Regions from separate parts of the Homo sapiens genome. Here region 2 is linked to region 1. The links come from fine-mapping of genetic effects on gene expression. Tissue or cell type: sun-exposed skin. Region 1 holds a variant in brackets; the other region holds the start of a gene. All regions are shown on one strand. Distances are from middle to middle.

Region 1 (8,094 bases):
GGCTCAGTGCAACCTCCACCTCCCAGGTTCAAGCAATTCTTGTGCCTCAGCCTCCTGAGTAGCTGGGATTACAGACGCCCACCACCACGCCCAGCTGATTTTTTTATATTTTAGTAGAGACGGGTTTCACCACGTTGTCCAGTCTGGTCTCAAACTCCTGAGCTCAGGCAATCTGCCCATCTCAGCCTCCCAAAGTGCTAGGATTACAGGCAGGGGCCACTGCGTCCGGCCAGTTAAAGGACTCTAAAACAAAGAGGTGCCTGGCCGGGTACAGTGGCTCACGCCTGTAATCCCAGCACTTTGGGAGGCCGAGGTGGGCAGATCACCTGAGGTCAGGAGTTCGAGACCAGTCTGGCCAACATGGTGAAACCCCATCTCTACTGAAAATACAAAAATTAGCCAGGTGTGGTGGTAGACGCCTTTAATTTCAGCTACTTGGGAGGCTGAGGCAGGAGAATCGCTTGAACCCAGGAGGCGGAGGTTGCAGTGAGCCGAGATTGTGCCATTGCACTCCAGCCTGGGGCACAAGAGCAAGACTTCGTCTCAAAAAAAAAAAAAAGACATAACCAAGAATATGGCATCTAGACCAAGGAGAAACCATTGGTGCTGGAGAAATGCTCTGAGATGCTGAAATCTCACGCCGGCACTTTGGCCCAACTCCTATTCAACCTTCACGATGTCGTTTCCGCTGGGCCACCTGTCCTAACTCCTGAGTCGAGAAAGCATGCTCCCAGGTGTCCTTACAGTACCCTGAGTGTCTCCCAGCACAGTGCCAACACCTTTGCCTTATCATTGCCTTCCTCTCTGGAAAGCACAGAGCTCTGTACATAGCAGGATTTAATAAATTTGTGTAGAATGCAAAAGGAATGAGTAGGGATCGAATAAGATCCACGGGCTTGGTGAGGGCAGACAAAGAGAATGAAACTGCCACTGCAGATCGGAACTAAGGGGGCTGGAAAAGGGCCTGTCATGAAGGCACATGTGGATGAGCTAAATCCGGGCCCTATTCGACAAATCCAGGAGTTAAAAGCCGCTCCTAGAAGTGCGAGTGGTCTGAAATTAGAACACACAGGATGATGTATTATTTTAGACGAGTGAAAGACTCTGCAAAGAGATGACACAGGTAAGAACAAACCAAAAAGGTTCAGATAAGTACGCTCAGTACAGCTCCCCATTTATGAAATGTCACATGGAGCATACCTTTAGCTTTTGGAAGTGATTATCTGAAGAGATAATAACTGGTCAGTGTGGCCATTCTTGGGCCATTCAGAGCTGAGACTCAGGTACTACAGAAGCTATCCTGACTCCCTCCTGTCACCCTGTACGAGTGATCTAGGGGTAGGCAGCTGTGCCAGGCTGCCCTGCGGGGAAGGAGACTCCTGTAGATGACCCTATACAGCTTTTCAAATGACAGAGGTAGGGCCCGGCAGGTCTCTGGAAAACACACATCATTGTGGACAATGAATTTTGCCCTGGTGGCATCATTTGGTGTATGGGAAGCACTGGCCTCTATACGCCCCTAATGAGCCCACCTGTCAAATAAGTAAACTGAGGAATAATAGAGAAAGGATCCCTTTTAACTTCCAAAGCTCTAATGTCCAGATGGGAATTAGTCACTAAACCACACAGTTTCTCAATATCCAAGTTCATAGAGGAAAACGAGCCTTCAGGGAATGTCACAGCCACCTCCGGCCTGAGACCAAGGAGAAGGGAAGCAGGGCCATACCTTTCCGGAGGGTGTGAGGACTCTGGTCTGCAGGCGGCTGGCTGGGGCTGGGGCTGGCGCCCGGCTGAGCTCCAGGTTGAGCCCCTGGTTGAGTCCCTGCACAGGCTGTGCCCTGGCTGGAGCCTGGACTTCCTTTCTGTGCAGAGCCTGGAGAAAGTTCCTTGCTTTTTGTTGTGCTGAAACGAAAGCACATGAGACAAAAGAAAAGCCCTGAACTCAGTGAGCGGCAGCACCAGCCTTGCCGATGGCCACCCTGTGTGTCCTTCTGGGCCCCGTGCAAGTCTGTCCCAGCTCTGGTCTGTCTTGGCCCCTTCCTAAAACCTTCGCAGGTGCCCCTTGGGGTGACTGCCCTTCCTGGAGCTCTGATGGCCTGGGTTCTGCCCCCATCTCTGTGGCACTTGGCACTCACTGCCAATGCCCTTTTCATGCCTCTGCCCTCCTCTCTTCAAGGAGACCGTGAGCAATGTGAGGGCAGGGGCCTGAGCACCTCTACCGTATCCTGCCATCAACCCAGGAATTCTAGAACATTCTCAAACTGGAACACCAAAGTGCTTTTCCTACTGTAGCCAAGAGGACTTCTCAGGGCCACTGTGCCCAACGAGTGCTGATGACACGGACTCCTGCTGCCAAGCTTGTGGCCCAGCTCTCCAGCTGTTTGCCCTGAGCCTCCAGCCACCCCCCAGGCAGGAGGGATTCTAGGACTCATCCTCAAACTCAATACCCATTCCAGCAGAAGCTAGGGTGGACAGAAATCCAGGCCATGCCCTTAAATGTGGGCCAGTTTGAGTCCCAGTCCCAGGCTTCAAGAGAGGTGAAGGTCGATGGCAGTGAGGGCTCTGGCCTCTGACCTCTGGAATTGACAATGAGGCACCCTAGGTCACCAGGTTTCCTAAAGAGGATTCATCGTTACTGCAAGGCTGTTCCTCAGCCTTCTTCTGAGGATGAAGCACGTATTAGAAGACACCTCACTCTACACCACAAACCAGGGATTTGTCATCCTGATACGCTGATGGTAGATATTACTAATTGATCTCCACACTTCCCCCACAGTGTTCTCAATCCTTTCCAAGAAAATTCTCCAGGTGGCCTTTAGTGAATCAGGGGAGATGCCCCACAGTTGGGAGCCATCTGTCATCCGTGCTAGAACCTACCTGGATTCTGATGCCCACAGGTGGGGCATGAAGAGTCTGGGAACCCAAATCCTCTGCAATGGCTGTTTCTATCCCACAAGAGCAGGCACAACCTGGGCCGGGCATGGTGGCTCATGCCTGTAATCCAGCACTTTGGGAGGCCGAGGCAGGCAGGTCACCTGAGGTCAGGAGTTTGAGACCAGCCTGGCCAACATGGCGAAACCCTGTCTACACTAAAAATGCAAAAATTAGCTGGGCGTGGTGACATGTGCCTGTAATCCCAGCCACTCGGGAGGCTGAGGCAGGAGGATGGCTTGAACCCGGGAGATGGAGGTTGCAGTGAGCTGAGATCGTGCCACTGCACTCCAGCCTGGGCAACAGAGGGAGACCCTGTCAAAAAAAAAAAGAAAAAAGAAAAAAGAAAAGAAAAAAAAAAGGCAGGCACAGCCTATTTCTTTCCTAAACTGATCTAGAAACTCCAGGTGTTAATTTGGAGAAAATTCCAATAGGAATAGAGCACTCTCGTCCACTGAGGTGAGAAAGACTGGGAGCAGGGAGCTGGGCCGGGGAAGCCCATAGCGTCAAAGCACAGGTCATTTTCCTCATGCAAAGAAATAAAAGGAAGATCACATTCAATGTGGAGGCACATTCTCTCCCACTTGGGATGAGTCTTACACACTATACCTAGTTCCCCAAGGGGCAAAAACCATTTTATTCAGAGGAACCAAAA[G/AG]AGCAGTAATTCCTTTCTCTATTCTGTTCATGAAAAACAGAAACAGAAAACCCTTGCCTCACTCAGGCTGGACAAGGACCTCAGGCTGCAGGTTACCAGGTACCCGGGCATCAATGCCAAATATCTACCTACCCTTCCATCTATCTCTGCCACTATCAAGAGGAAGGCCAGTCAACCAATCAAAAACATCTCATAATCAGCAAACTAAAAAATTGCTTCTTGTGGGTGGGTAGACTCTTCTTCCTTCCTTTGGACACACATCTATCCAAGGAATCTAGGAATGAGCTCTTCCTTCTGTTCCCTGCCACGAAACACACTTTTTTTTTTTTTTTTTTTTGAGATGGAGTCTTGCTCTGTTGCCCAGCTGGAGTATAGTGCCATGATCTCAGCTCACTGTCATCTCTGCCTCCCAGGTTCAAGCGATTCTCCTTCCTCAGCCTCCCAAGTAGCTAGGATTAAAGGCATGTGCCACCACACCCAGCTAATTTTTGTATTTATAGTACAGACGGGGTTTCACCATGTTGGCCAGGATGGCCTCGATCTCCTGACCTCAGGATCCACCCCCCTCGGCCACCCAAAGTGCTGGGATTGCAGGCGTGAGCTACCACGCCCGGCCCGGACACACTTCCTCCAGCACAGAAACAAGTATTTACCCACTTAGCCTTGTCCTCTTTCTCCAGCATAGGTGCAGCTGACCCAGTGGGGAGAGGTGGGGCGTAGGGCGGCTACTAGGGGCGCTACCTGAACAAGGCATGTTTAAGGCACGTTTGAGGACAAGTTAGCTCTGAAGATGCATGACTCAGCCCATGACCTTGGTGCCAAGAAGCAGGAAGGAGAATTTTGGGGTTAGCATTCATGCTAAGCAGTTGGGCGGGATGTGGAGGCAGAGCCTGGCTGGACAGAGCCAGGGAAAGAACTGAAGGTGGGGCCTGGGGTAGGGAGTGGGAAGGTGGGAACCAGTCAGAGGCAAGGAAGGGCCTGCCATCAGGGGAGGGGGAGCCAGAACGAGAATCCGGCCACTCGAGGGAACATCATCTGGGCTGCAAACATCCAGGAAACAGAAACAAACAACACAAACAAAAACAATGGAACACCTGTTTGTACTGGGAGAAACCCATGCGGGGAGAGAACAAAAAGTGGTGTAAAACACAAAACACTAACATCCAAAGAAAAGTTACTAAACCGGTCAGCCCGGGCAAAGGGGAAAGACATTTGGCTATAGAGCAATGTGAGTTGGCTTTAAAATAATCGAAACCAGAGGGTGCCATTGCCTGCCCACAAGTAACTCTGCAAGGTCACCCACCGAGAATGTTCCTGGAATGCCTTCAGAGCCTGGGGGAATCCATCTTCAAGGAGCACTTTTTAGAAATATCATTTATATGCCAAATACCATATGGCACTGAGTCCCCTTTCTAAGATGGGAAACTAGGATGAAGCTGAGGAGTGTCCAAAAAGGAAGCAGTCCCAGCCCATCTCCCGCCTGTGGGTCCGTTTCCTCCTGGTCGGCCTCACCTGGCCCACCACTCTCAGACTCTGCTTCTCCAATGAACTCACTGTGCCCGCATCTGCATCTCTCAGGTCCATCTGTGGCCTAGCAATTACACAGCCAGGACCGAGCATCCTCTGAGTTGAAGTCATCAACAGCAACCCAGCATGCCCAGGGTCAGGTGCCCCCTCCTATGCTCTAAGACTATCTAACCCCCTGTCCCTTTGTCATTTCCTGGTTTTACAGTGAAAATACTTTTTTTTTTTTTTTTTTTTGACACAGAGTCTCGCTCTGTCACCCAGGTTGGAGTGCAGTGGCACCATCTCGGCTCACTGCAACCTCCGCCTCCTGGGTTCAAGCGATTCTCCTGCCTCAGCCTCCTGAGTAGCTGGGACTATAGACATATACCACTGCACCCAGCTAATTTTTGTATTTTTAGTAGAGATGGGGTTTCACCATGTTGGCCAGGCTGGTCACGAGCTCCTGACCTCAGGTGATCCGCCCGCCTCAGCCTCCCAAAGTGCTGGGATTACAGGTGTGAGCCACCGTGCCCGGCCGTGAAAATACTTTTTACTCATTAAACAAAATAAAACAAAAAAGCCTGGAAGCCTCTCATGTAGGGGGTTGGTGTGGGTGTGGGTGTGTGTTTGTGTGCTGGTGGTGATGGTGTGTGAGGATGAGTGTCCATGTGTATGCATGTGTGTTTGGAGAAAGATTTGGGTTAGAAGATTCAGCTTCCCAAAGTCTCCAAAACTTTTCTGGCAGTGGTCATGGAGGAATGCCATGTCTTCTAACAGGAGACACGGTGGCATGTGATTTCATATTGCTTTTCTGGTGTTCTAAATTGCTGTTTGAGAAAAGATAGAAACAAACAGCAAAGCTGTTTCATGGTGCAATTCTCACATCCAGAATCTGCCTCCCCTGATCATGCCCCTTTCAAGGAAGGGCCAGGTACTGTCTCCTCCCCTGCCACCCTGGGTATGCATAACCAAGTGCTGTCATTATTTGTCAGGGCCTGTTTGCTCACTGGAACGTGAACTTTTTAAGGGCAGCAATCATGTCTTTTTTTCTTTTTTTTTTTTTTTTTTTTTTGAGACGGAGTCACGCTGTCACCCAGGCTGGAGTGCAGTGGCGCGATCCGGGCTCACTGCAAGCTCCGCCTCCTGGGTTCACGCCATTCTCCTGCCTCAGCCTCCCCAGTAGCTGGGACTACAGGCGCCCGCCACCACGCCCAGCTAATTTTTTGTATTTTTAGTAGAGGTGGGGTTTCACCGTGTTAGCCAGGATGGTCTCGATCTCCTGACCTCGTGATCCACCCGCCTCGGCCTCCCAAAGTGCTGGGATTACAGGCGTGAGCCACCGTGCCCGGCCATCTTTTTATCTTTAAAAAGAGAAAGTTATCAGTTAATATTCATCAAGCTACCCATGGAATGAATTCCTGTCTTTTTCCTTCCCCTAAAATAATGGCAATTCAACCATGTGGCAAGCTGCAAAGGTCATCAGGCCCAGTACAACCGCCACCTCCATTCATTCCCTGACTTGCACCCATTTTAGCGGCATCAAAAGAAAAAAAAAAGTGGCTGCTATGACTATAAAGAGAAGGAGAAACACAGAAATTGTAAACTTCAAAATAGGATACAGTAGTCCCCCTTATCCGTGGTTTTACTTTCTGTAGTTTCAGTTACCTGTGGTCAACTGTGGTCCAAATAGGTGCGTACAGTTCAATAAAATATTTTCAGGCTAGGCATGGTGGCTCAGGCCTGTAATCCCAGCAGTTTGGGAGGCCGAGGCGGGTGGATCACTTAAAGTCAGGAGTTTGAGACCAGCCTGGCCAGCATAGTGAAACCCCATCTCTACTAAAAATACAAAAATTAGCCAAGCATGGTGGCACATGCCTGTAATCCCAGCTACTTGGGAGGCTGAGGCAGGAGAATCGCTTGAGCCTGTAAGGCGGAGGTTGCAGTGAGTCGAGATCGCGCCTCTGCACTCCAGCCTGGGCGACCAACCGAGACTCCATCTCGAAAAAAAAAAAAAATTGAGAGACACCACATTCACATAATTTTATTACAGCATATGCTTATAATTCTTCTATTTTATTACCAGTTATTGCTTATGTCCTACTGTGCCTAATTTATAAATTAAAACTTTATCACAGGTATGTGTGTATAAGAAAAAATAACAGTATATATAGGGCTTGGGACTATCAGCTGTTTCAGATATGCGCTGGGGGTCTTGGCATGTATCTCCCACGGATATGGGGGGCCACTGTAACGACAAAGACAGAGGAAGGGGAAAACAGAGTTGGGGAACCTAAGACTCTTCACCCTGCCTTCGCAAGCTGCCACCTTCTGCTTGCTTGCGATGTTATGCTGGGGAAGACTGGACTTCGTGTGATAATCCAGGCAGCTGTGGATGACTGACTTGGTGCCAGCGCGACGCAGAAGCCAAATATGAATGCTTAGAAATGGGGGCGGGGGCATGGGAAACGACGAAATCCAAGAGGCCTCCAGTGCGGCCAACCCAGACACCCCCTGCACCGCACACCAGCCCGCCCGGACGGCAGTGGCCCGCGCTTACCTGGTGCGCTCGGGCCCAGGCTGGAGGCCCAGGCCGGATGGAGAGAGCGCGGGGGCCGCGGGGCTGTCCAGGGGCTGCTCCGGCAGCGGCGAAGGCAGGGGCGCAGCCAGCTCGGCGGGCGGGGCGGGAGGCTGCATGGAGGGCGGGGCGCAGGACACTTTCCGACCGGCCGAGGAGCCTCTTCGAGCCACCCAGTTTGTGTCCATGACCCTCACACCCATGCTGGCGAGGGACACAAAGACACCGCTTACCCACGCGTAACAGATGACAGGAGACAGGCTCCCTCCCCCACATTCAAGCAGGTCCGCGTTGGGAGAAGAGCAGCGCAGCTTTAGCACCCCGGGGGCCCGGGAAGCGATGCATTGGGGGCTGTGCTCCCAGCACCCTGGCTGCTCCCGGCGGCCAAGACACAGCCCTGGGCAGCCCAGTCCTGGCAAGAGCGGCC
Region 2 (8,089 bases), 190 kb after region 1:
AAGAAACATGGTATCAGGAGCTTTCCCCATCTTTGAACTACTTCAAAAGACTCCCCTATCTATAGCGCATGGATCTTTTGTTCACTTACTCATTCCATTGCCAAAGAATGACAGAGGACCTTCTATACAGGGCAGCGTTAGGGCAGCTGTCCCTGCCTCCAAAGAGTTTAAAGTCTAGTGGGGAAAGTAAATGACAAAAGATAAAAATTATAACACAAGTGAGCCATTATTACCATAGCATGCTTTTAGAATGCAGGTTCCTTTTTTTTTTTTTGTGTGAGATGGAGTCTCACTCTGTCGCCCAGGCTGGAGTACAGTGGTGCAAGCTTGGCTCACTGCAACCTCCACCTCCCGGGTTCAAGCGATTCTCCCGCCTCAGACTCCCCAGTAGCTGGGATTACAGGCGCCCGCCACCATGCCCAGCTAATTTTTGTATTTTTAGTAGAGACGGGGTTTCGCCATGTTGGCCAGGCTGGTCTCGAACTCCTGACCTCAGGTGATCCACCCTCCTTGGCCTCCCAAAGTGCTGGGACTACAGGCGTGAGCCACCACGCCCGGCCTAGAATGCAGGTTCCAGGCAAACAGGAATTTTGTTTGCCCTGTACTGCAATACTCCCTGAACCAGAGCAGTGTCTGGGACACAGTAGACATCTAATAAAGGTACATATGCCATAGTGCATATAATTCAATAACAGTCATAACATTTGCCCAGAGATACTTGTAGCTACCATTTATTAAGCATTTCCTAGTGCTGAGCACTGCTAGGTACTTTTCACAGGTTATCTATGTTATCACTGTGGTTACCACATTACCACAGTGCAATCCTTAACTACTCCCATTTTGCAAGTAAGAAAATTAATGTGCAGAGAATTAAGCTCTGGATTCCATAGTCAGCAACAAACTAAACCTGTCCCAGTGGAAAGCCTGTGCTCCTAACCATGAGGCACACAGTGGCCAGGGAGTGCTTCCCAAAGGACGGATTGAAGTGAAGGGACAGAAAGGGGAAAGTTCAAAGCAGAAGGAACACGTGCAGACTAAGGAAACAGACCAAGGAGGGGCTGAAACTTTTGTCAGTTAAATACAATGGGTTTTATCAAATCTTTTCATAGTCGCTGACGCCCTTAATATGACTTGGATGTGAGCACTTCGAGAGAAAGTACTAGTAACCCAGCAGAGTATGTTTAAGTAGGGCAACTCCTACATTGTTAAAATGACTTTAAGTTTTATATTCAGAACTCCAGAACCTGCAACTTAGGGAAGGCGAGCCATGAGGAAGGACTTTCAAGTCCTCTTAGTCCTCCCTCGGAAAGAGGAAAACTTTAGAAAAATATAAGGATAAAAATCAAGTGCTTTATAACTGCACACCTAAAGTCCAAATTCCAATCCTATGTGCTTCTACTGATTTAAGAAATTAACAGGCAACCGCGGGCTCTTTTACTCCAATACTCATAGGATCATGACCCAAAACATTCTCAATAATAGAGGAGATACTGCCCCTCTCGCTGACCCTCACGGACCCTGGGGTAAACCGTTTTAATCTCGGCAATCAACACCGATTGAGAGTCAGTAGTCTAAACGGCATTGCACTATCTACACAGGCATACAACAGCAATCAATAGATTCTGCTGGAAGCAGACAGACAAGAAAATAAAAAATAAAAGCGTTTCAATCAGTGATGAGTGCTGTCCAGAAATGAAAAAATGATGAGCTGGAGGTAAATAGGGGAGGAAGGGCCTCTTGAAGGCCTTGGAACCAAGACTGAAATGATGAGAAAAAGCTACTTGGAAGGAGCACATTCTCAGCCAAGCAAAAAACAAAAAAAATGGGAAAACAGTAAAAACGAAATCCTCAAGGTGGATATGAGCTCAGTGTGTTTGGGGCAAGAAAGGCCACACGGCTAGAGCTCCATGAATGTGAAGAGATGAGAATGGGGAGAAAAAGAGTTAAGAAAAAAGGCCAACCAAGGATGGTCCTGTAGAACCCTGGCAAGATATGAGATGCTAAGCACAATCAGATGTCGCTGGAAGCTTTTCAGCAGCAAGGTAACATGAACTGGTTTTTGCTTTAAAAGGCTTGCTCTGGATTTCATCAAAAGCGATACAGGCTGGCCCTCACCTGGCCCAGTGCACAACACAATGGCTACCAACGGAGAAAGGCAGAATTCATCCATAGGCCAACATCCACCAGAGCCCCAACAAAGAAGAGGAAAGAACCTCTTGGTAACCAGCTGCTTGGACTTCCAAGAACGTGCTCTCAATACCTAAGACCACTTTTTCTGAAATCCAACCTCCCCTCACCATTTTGCATTCCCCCCATGGATGAGGCTGAAAAATAAGATATGATGCCATGGCGCAAAAATCTCCCCCATTTAAAAACAGGTCCTGAAAAAAAGAAGAATTGTGTTTCAGGAAGGCCAGGGAGGAGGCATAAACATGTTCTGAACATTTAGATTCTAGCACGGCACTGAAACCCCAAGACCAAGAGAAACCAGCAACCCAAGTCTAGTGTCAGGGGCCTCCTGGTCACTTGGCTGGTCTGAGGTGATGGCCAATGCCCGCCTGCAGGGTGACGAAGAAGCCAAGACATTAAAGACGGGTCGGCTTGACTGTCATCTGCTAAACAACGAATACCAGGAAACACTATCTCGGCATCCAACACATCAAAAGGCAGTCCACGTGAGGCTATATCTGTGGCAATACCATGCCAGAAATCTGGGCTAATCTGACTCTGCTATTCATAAATTCCCCCTCATGTTAAAGCACATGTGTTTGGGAAGGAAAAATGAATCCAAGTCAATTTTAGACATTGTTACTTGGAAACCATCTGGAGTCCCTGGAAGCATAAGAAGCCACCGCATCCCCTGCCCTCAAATGCCCACTGTAACTAGGGCAGTATGCTCAGACGGGAGTTCAGATGTCCCCTATTCCCCAGGGATGTCCCCACCCCCATCCTACCAGATGCCAGTTCAGGCTCCACTTCCCACCCAAGAAAGGTATTCGGTTTCTCCGTAAACCTAGTGGAGAGCCCTCGAGGTGTTGAGCTTGCATTTGAACTGCACCCAAGGCTGGATTCTTTGCTTTCTGATTGCTTTAGAACAGCACACCTGAATTCCTTTGCCACAGCAGCAACGGAAATCCCTCCCCAGGAGTAGGGGTTCCAGGAAAAATCCCTTCTACCTAACGCTCCTGTGTTCAAAGAATGTCTAGTCTTGGGAGCGACCCACCAGGATTTTTATGTAACCTTAATAGATGTTGGCACCCTGCAGAGCCGCTCCTGGAGTCCAGATGTAGCCCATTTTCACCGTGATGGCAGCAGGCGGGGTCTTGCAGCTTCCCGGGGCCTGACTCTTCTGACTGTGGGGCCTCTGTCCCCCTCCCCTACCTGGCTGCGATTCTCTGCTTATCTCATCTTCCCGAGGACTTGGGCCTCCTTTTTGCAGCCTCCCTCCCTCCACTGAAATCAGTCCTAACATCAAGCAGGCAGCAACGCCATTCCACCAGCACCTTCCTTCCTCTCCCACCCCTCACCCTTTCCCCCCACCAAACGCCTTAAGAAACCCGGCCAGGAAAGTGATCCAGAATCTCGTACAGTCATAGTCCCTGAAAACAAACACGGCGGGAGGGGCAGGCCGACCAGGCCCAGCACTTTCCCTGGACCCGGGAGCAGCCCTGAACTCGGCGCAGGGGAGGGGAGGGAAGAGATCTCCGGAGACCGACTGCGGTTCGGCTGCCTCCAGCACAATCAGAGCAAACACCTGTTTCCAGGAAGACAGGCGGCCAGAGGGAGAAGGGAGTCCCGGGGAAAGGCAGGGAGGACGAAGCGAAGGGGCAGCCGGGGACGCAGGTAAAGGATGCGTCACACTTTGCGCTTGGCAACCGGAGCCCGGAGCAGAAGGCGGCGAGTGAGAAGAGCTCCGGGGTCTGGGAAGTTAGGGAGGAGGGGTCGCGCCTGCGAGCGGCGCCTGGAGGGAGCTGGTGCAGGGGAAAGGACTGAGGCAAGGAGGACTGGAGGCTGGGCGGGCTCCATCACCTGCGCGCCCCTGCGGATGCAGCCTCGCGGGCGCGCACCGACAGCGGTGCCCGCGGGTGACCTACCTGCCCACCGTCTGGTTGGCCAGCTGGCGCATGCGATTGAACTGCTTCTTCATCGTGGCCCCGCTGCCGCGCTAGCCCGGGAGCTGGGGAAGGACGGAGCAGCCCGGAGCCCGCCGCAGGGTTACATGGCTCCCGCGCGGAGCCTCCCGGGCGACGGCGGCGGCACTGCGGAGCCTCCGGGCGCCGTCTGGCCCGCGCGCAGCTCCCTCCCGAGGGCGCCGCCGCCTACTCCTCCCGCCGCGCCGCCTCCTGCCGCATCCCCCTCACGCGCGCCGCGCAATGCCCGGGGCAGAGCAATGCCTGGGGCCGTCCTCGGCACCGGCCCGCTCCGCCCGGGCTGCCTGCTCCCAGTCCCAGTCCGGCGCGGGGACCCGGGAGTCTCCGCAGGCTGGCTGGCCGGCTGGCCCGGCGGTCCCCGTGCGCCTGTGCGGAGAACGCCGTGCATGCCGGGACTTGTAGTTTCGCGCCCCGTGCCCACCTTTCCTCTGTCCAAAGTTTGCAAGGACAGTGGAGTGCGGAGGTGGGAGAAGGCAGCGTCACCAGCAGCTTTGCACTTTAGCGTTCGAGTAAGGGAAACGTTTTCCTGTTTTAAAAATGGCAAAGTGGGACCAAGAATACAACAGCAAATAAAGAAAGTGAGCATCTGTCTCTCATTGTATTTTTAGTGAATGTGAGGTATCAGTGTTCTGAATTCACAGAAGGGAGATTTATGCTAGCAGATACGTGGCTGATAAAACGGTCTAAGGTCACCTGATTAATGATGAGGTTCAAGGTTAAGCTTGAAACACAGGGGCTGACAGCAGATTTTGAACAGGCATAGCTTGCATCCCAGAAGTCTGATTCTTAATTTTTACCAAACCAAACCCATTAGGTAACCAGAAGCCAATATAGATAAGTGACGTTGTGCTTACTGGCCCAACCTGTCTGAGACAGCTTTTTTGTATGGCTTAGATGCCAATCTCGTATCTAGTCCCATTTCCCTTCCACCACCAGGAGACCAAGGGGCATCAGCTGCAGCACCCCCCAAGTGTCCTGCACCACAGCATCCCATTGGCGTCAGTTGACTCCTTGGAAGGGGTTGTGGCTTCTTTGGTCTCTATCCTTAGAAAAAGATAGGTGAGCCGGGCGCGGTGGCTCACGCTTGTAATCCCAACAGTTTGGGAGGCCAAGGAGGGTGGATCACGAGGTCAGGAGTTCGACACCAGCCTGGCCAACACAGTGAAACCCTGTCTCTGCTAAAAATACAAAAATTAGCTGGGCGTGGTGGCGGGCACCTGTAATCCCAGCTACTTGGGAGGCTGAGGCAGGAGAATAGCTTGAACCTGGGAGGTGGAGGTTGCAGTGAGTGGAGATCGCGCCATTGCACGCCAGCCTGGGTGACAGAGCTAGACTCCATCTCAAAAAACAAAAAAAAAAGAAAAGAAAAAAAAGAAAAAGATTGGTGATTGCAGTTAGGTTTTATCATTATATATCAAGGTTTTATCATTATATATCAAGTAAAAGCAGTATTGTTGGGTGTGAGGCACTTTGGATTAAACAGATAGGAGTTCCTGCATCAGAATTCCACATACCTGTTATATAACCTTAGGAAAACAGCTTAACCTCTCCAAACCTCTGTTTCCTCATCCCTAAATAGAAAAATATGCTGCCTGATCTTCAGTAAGAGAACTATTTGTTAAATTACAATAATCAAATTACATATAAATTTTCATATAGTACATTGCCGTATTCATTTACTACAAAATGATTATATTTAGCATAATAGAGAAAAATCCTGTTCATACAACAGAATTACTAATCTTATAAAGGAAGGATCTTCTTTGAAATAGGATATTTTGCATATGTTGATTATAGTTGCAAGATGTCCTAAATATGGCTCTAAGTATCTTGCTGGCTAGCTGAACAAAAAGTGGTTTGAGGCATGTCTTGGCTGAATGAACATGAAATCTTTAATTAATTGTGAATTTAGCCTCTGCTTATTAGGTCAGACAACTCCAGCCAGTGAATAAATGAAGGCATTATTTGCTTTTAACCAACTATGCTGTACCTATAATGTCAATATGATGTCTATATTAAGTGAAATTATTTCCATTTTGAGATTTTTTAAAAAGCAAAGTACAACATGCTTTTTATGTGTATAAACGGTAAGACATTAAGGTCACTGTATGACTTTTAGCAACACTATCTCTGGTAACTTCCAGAACTGCACTGTTGAATATAGTATCCCCTAGCCACATGTGGTTGTTGCAATTTAAGTTAATTAAAGTTCAAAATTTGGTTCCTCACTTTTGCACTGTTGGTGGGATTGTAAATTACTTCAACCATTGTGGAAAACAGTGTGGCAATTCTTCAAGGATCTAGAACTAGAAATACCATTTGACCCAGCAATCCCATTACTGGGTATATACCCAAAGGATTATAAATCATTCTGCTATAAAGACACATGCACATGTATGTTTATTGTGGCACTGTTCACAATAGCAAAGACTTGGAAACAATCCTAATGCCCATCAATGATAGACTGGATAAAAAAAAATGTGGCACATTTTCACCATGGAATACCATGCAGCCATAAAAAAGGGTGAGTTCATGTCCTTTGCAGGGACATGGATACAGCCATTAAAAAGGATGAGTTCATGTCCTTTGCAGGGACATGGATGAAGCTGTAAACCATCATTCTCAGCAAACTAACACAGGAACAGAAAACCAAACACCGCATGTTCTCACTCATAAGTGGGGGTTGAACAAAGAGAAAACATGGACACAGGGAGGGGAACATCACACACCGGGGCCTGTCGCGGGTAGGGGCAAGGGGAGGGATAGCATTAGGAGAAATACCTAATATAGATGATGGGTTAATGGGTGCAGCAAACCACCATGGCACGTGTATACCTATGTAACAAACCTGCACGTTCTGCACACATATCCCAGAACTTAAAGTTTAATAAAAAATAAAATAAAATAAAAACAGAATTTAGTTCCTCGGTCACCCAAGTCACATTCGAAGTACTTAAGAGCCACATGTGGCTAAAGGCTACTGTACTGGACAGCACAGATAAAGAACATTACTATCCTCTCAGAAAGTTCTACTTGTTAGCACTAATCCTCAAGAACTCTGGTAGCCAACTCCAATATCATGCCAGCCCCTGCCTTCAATCCCAAGATTTTTCCGTTCCAAAGGGAAATCCCTTTGGCAGCCTCCCCTGCCAGAGTGTGGTCCAATAATGTTTTATTAACTGGTGGCTTCTCCACAGATTTTCTGTCTTCCTTTGAATGCTTCCTTCACTCAGGAAGCAGCTAGTACATTTTCTGCTTTCTACCCCGGGGAAGGGATAATAGTGCAGAAACAAGAGCTTCAGAAACACATGTGACAGAATAGAGTTCTTCAAGAAAAGAGTTTTGAGTTTCCAGAATACAGGCTTTGGAGCTTTAATAGTCTATGTCAGAAATAGTAGATTATAAAGCATATATCATCCTGCTTAGTCTAAATAAAGAACCTACAGGCTGTGAGATGTTGAAGATGGTGATGGGGACTGGAAAGCGGGAGAGAAAGAGAGAAGAAAAGTAGATGATGCTTGTGCAGATACTATTAATGCCCAAAAAATTTCACTGCCAATCCCTATGGGAAGGACTCTATTTTACCTTACTGTTGAGGTAAAGATCGGTCATGTGATTTTCTTTGAACAATGAATATGCACAGAGGTGACTTTTACGCTTCTTCTGAGGGCAGAAGTTTCAGGAGTCATTTTGTGATCCTGCCCTCTTCTTCTTAACGCTGCCAATGAACCAGTTAGGGGATGCTGTGGAACAGTGATGTGGCCCCCCAGCAAAAGGTATCTTTGCTGTTTTAAATCAGAGGTTTGTTGCTGTAACATAATTGAGTCTAAGCTGACTGCTACAGTGGGTTTCTCTGAGAAAGTAGCATGCACCTTGCTTTTACCCATGGTCAACAATTAGGTTGGGGGCAGGCAGACTGAAGACAGATATATCATATC

Direction of the effects. Positions count from the first base shown, and alleles are read on the strand shown. Sizes are in standard deviations (SD) of each study's normalised expression.
With allele G in place of AG in region 1, the expression in sun-exposed skin of the gene that starts at base 4,488 in region 2 is lower (small effect, 0.22 SD a copy in GTEx).

Evidence for each region. PIP is the estimated chance that this variant, and not a neighbour inherited with it, causes the effect.
Region 2: ARHGAP44 starts here. The variant in region 1 is fine-mapped to the expression of ARHGAP44 in sun-exposed skin (GTEx, PIP above 0.99).

The regions. Positions count from the first base shown.
Region 1 is chr17:12,973,866-12,981,959 of GRCh38, reverse strand. ARHGAP44 (Rho GTPase activating protein 44) reads right to left here. Exons shown (of 21, transcript NM_014859.6): 18 at 7,650-7,871; 19 at 1,727-1,902. Among named protein-coding and RNA genes, the nearest start is that of ELAC2, 40 kb to the left of the region's middle. RefSeq lists a silencer at 4,394-4,688. The variant G/AG (reference allele first, on the strand shown) is at 3,587.
Region 2 is chr17:12,785,897-12,793,985 of GRCh38, reverse strand. It overlaps ARHGAP44 (Rho GTPase activating protein 44), which reads right to left and starts at 4,488. Exons shown (of 21, transcript NM_014859.6): 1 at 4,095-4,488. The coding sequence starts at 4,147. It overlaps ARHGAP44-AS1 (ARHGAP44 and MYOCD antisense RNA 1), which reads left to right and starts at 3,702. Exons shown (of 2, transcript NR_104607.1): 1 at 3,702-3,843. RefSeq lists a silencer at 4,212-4,561.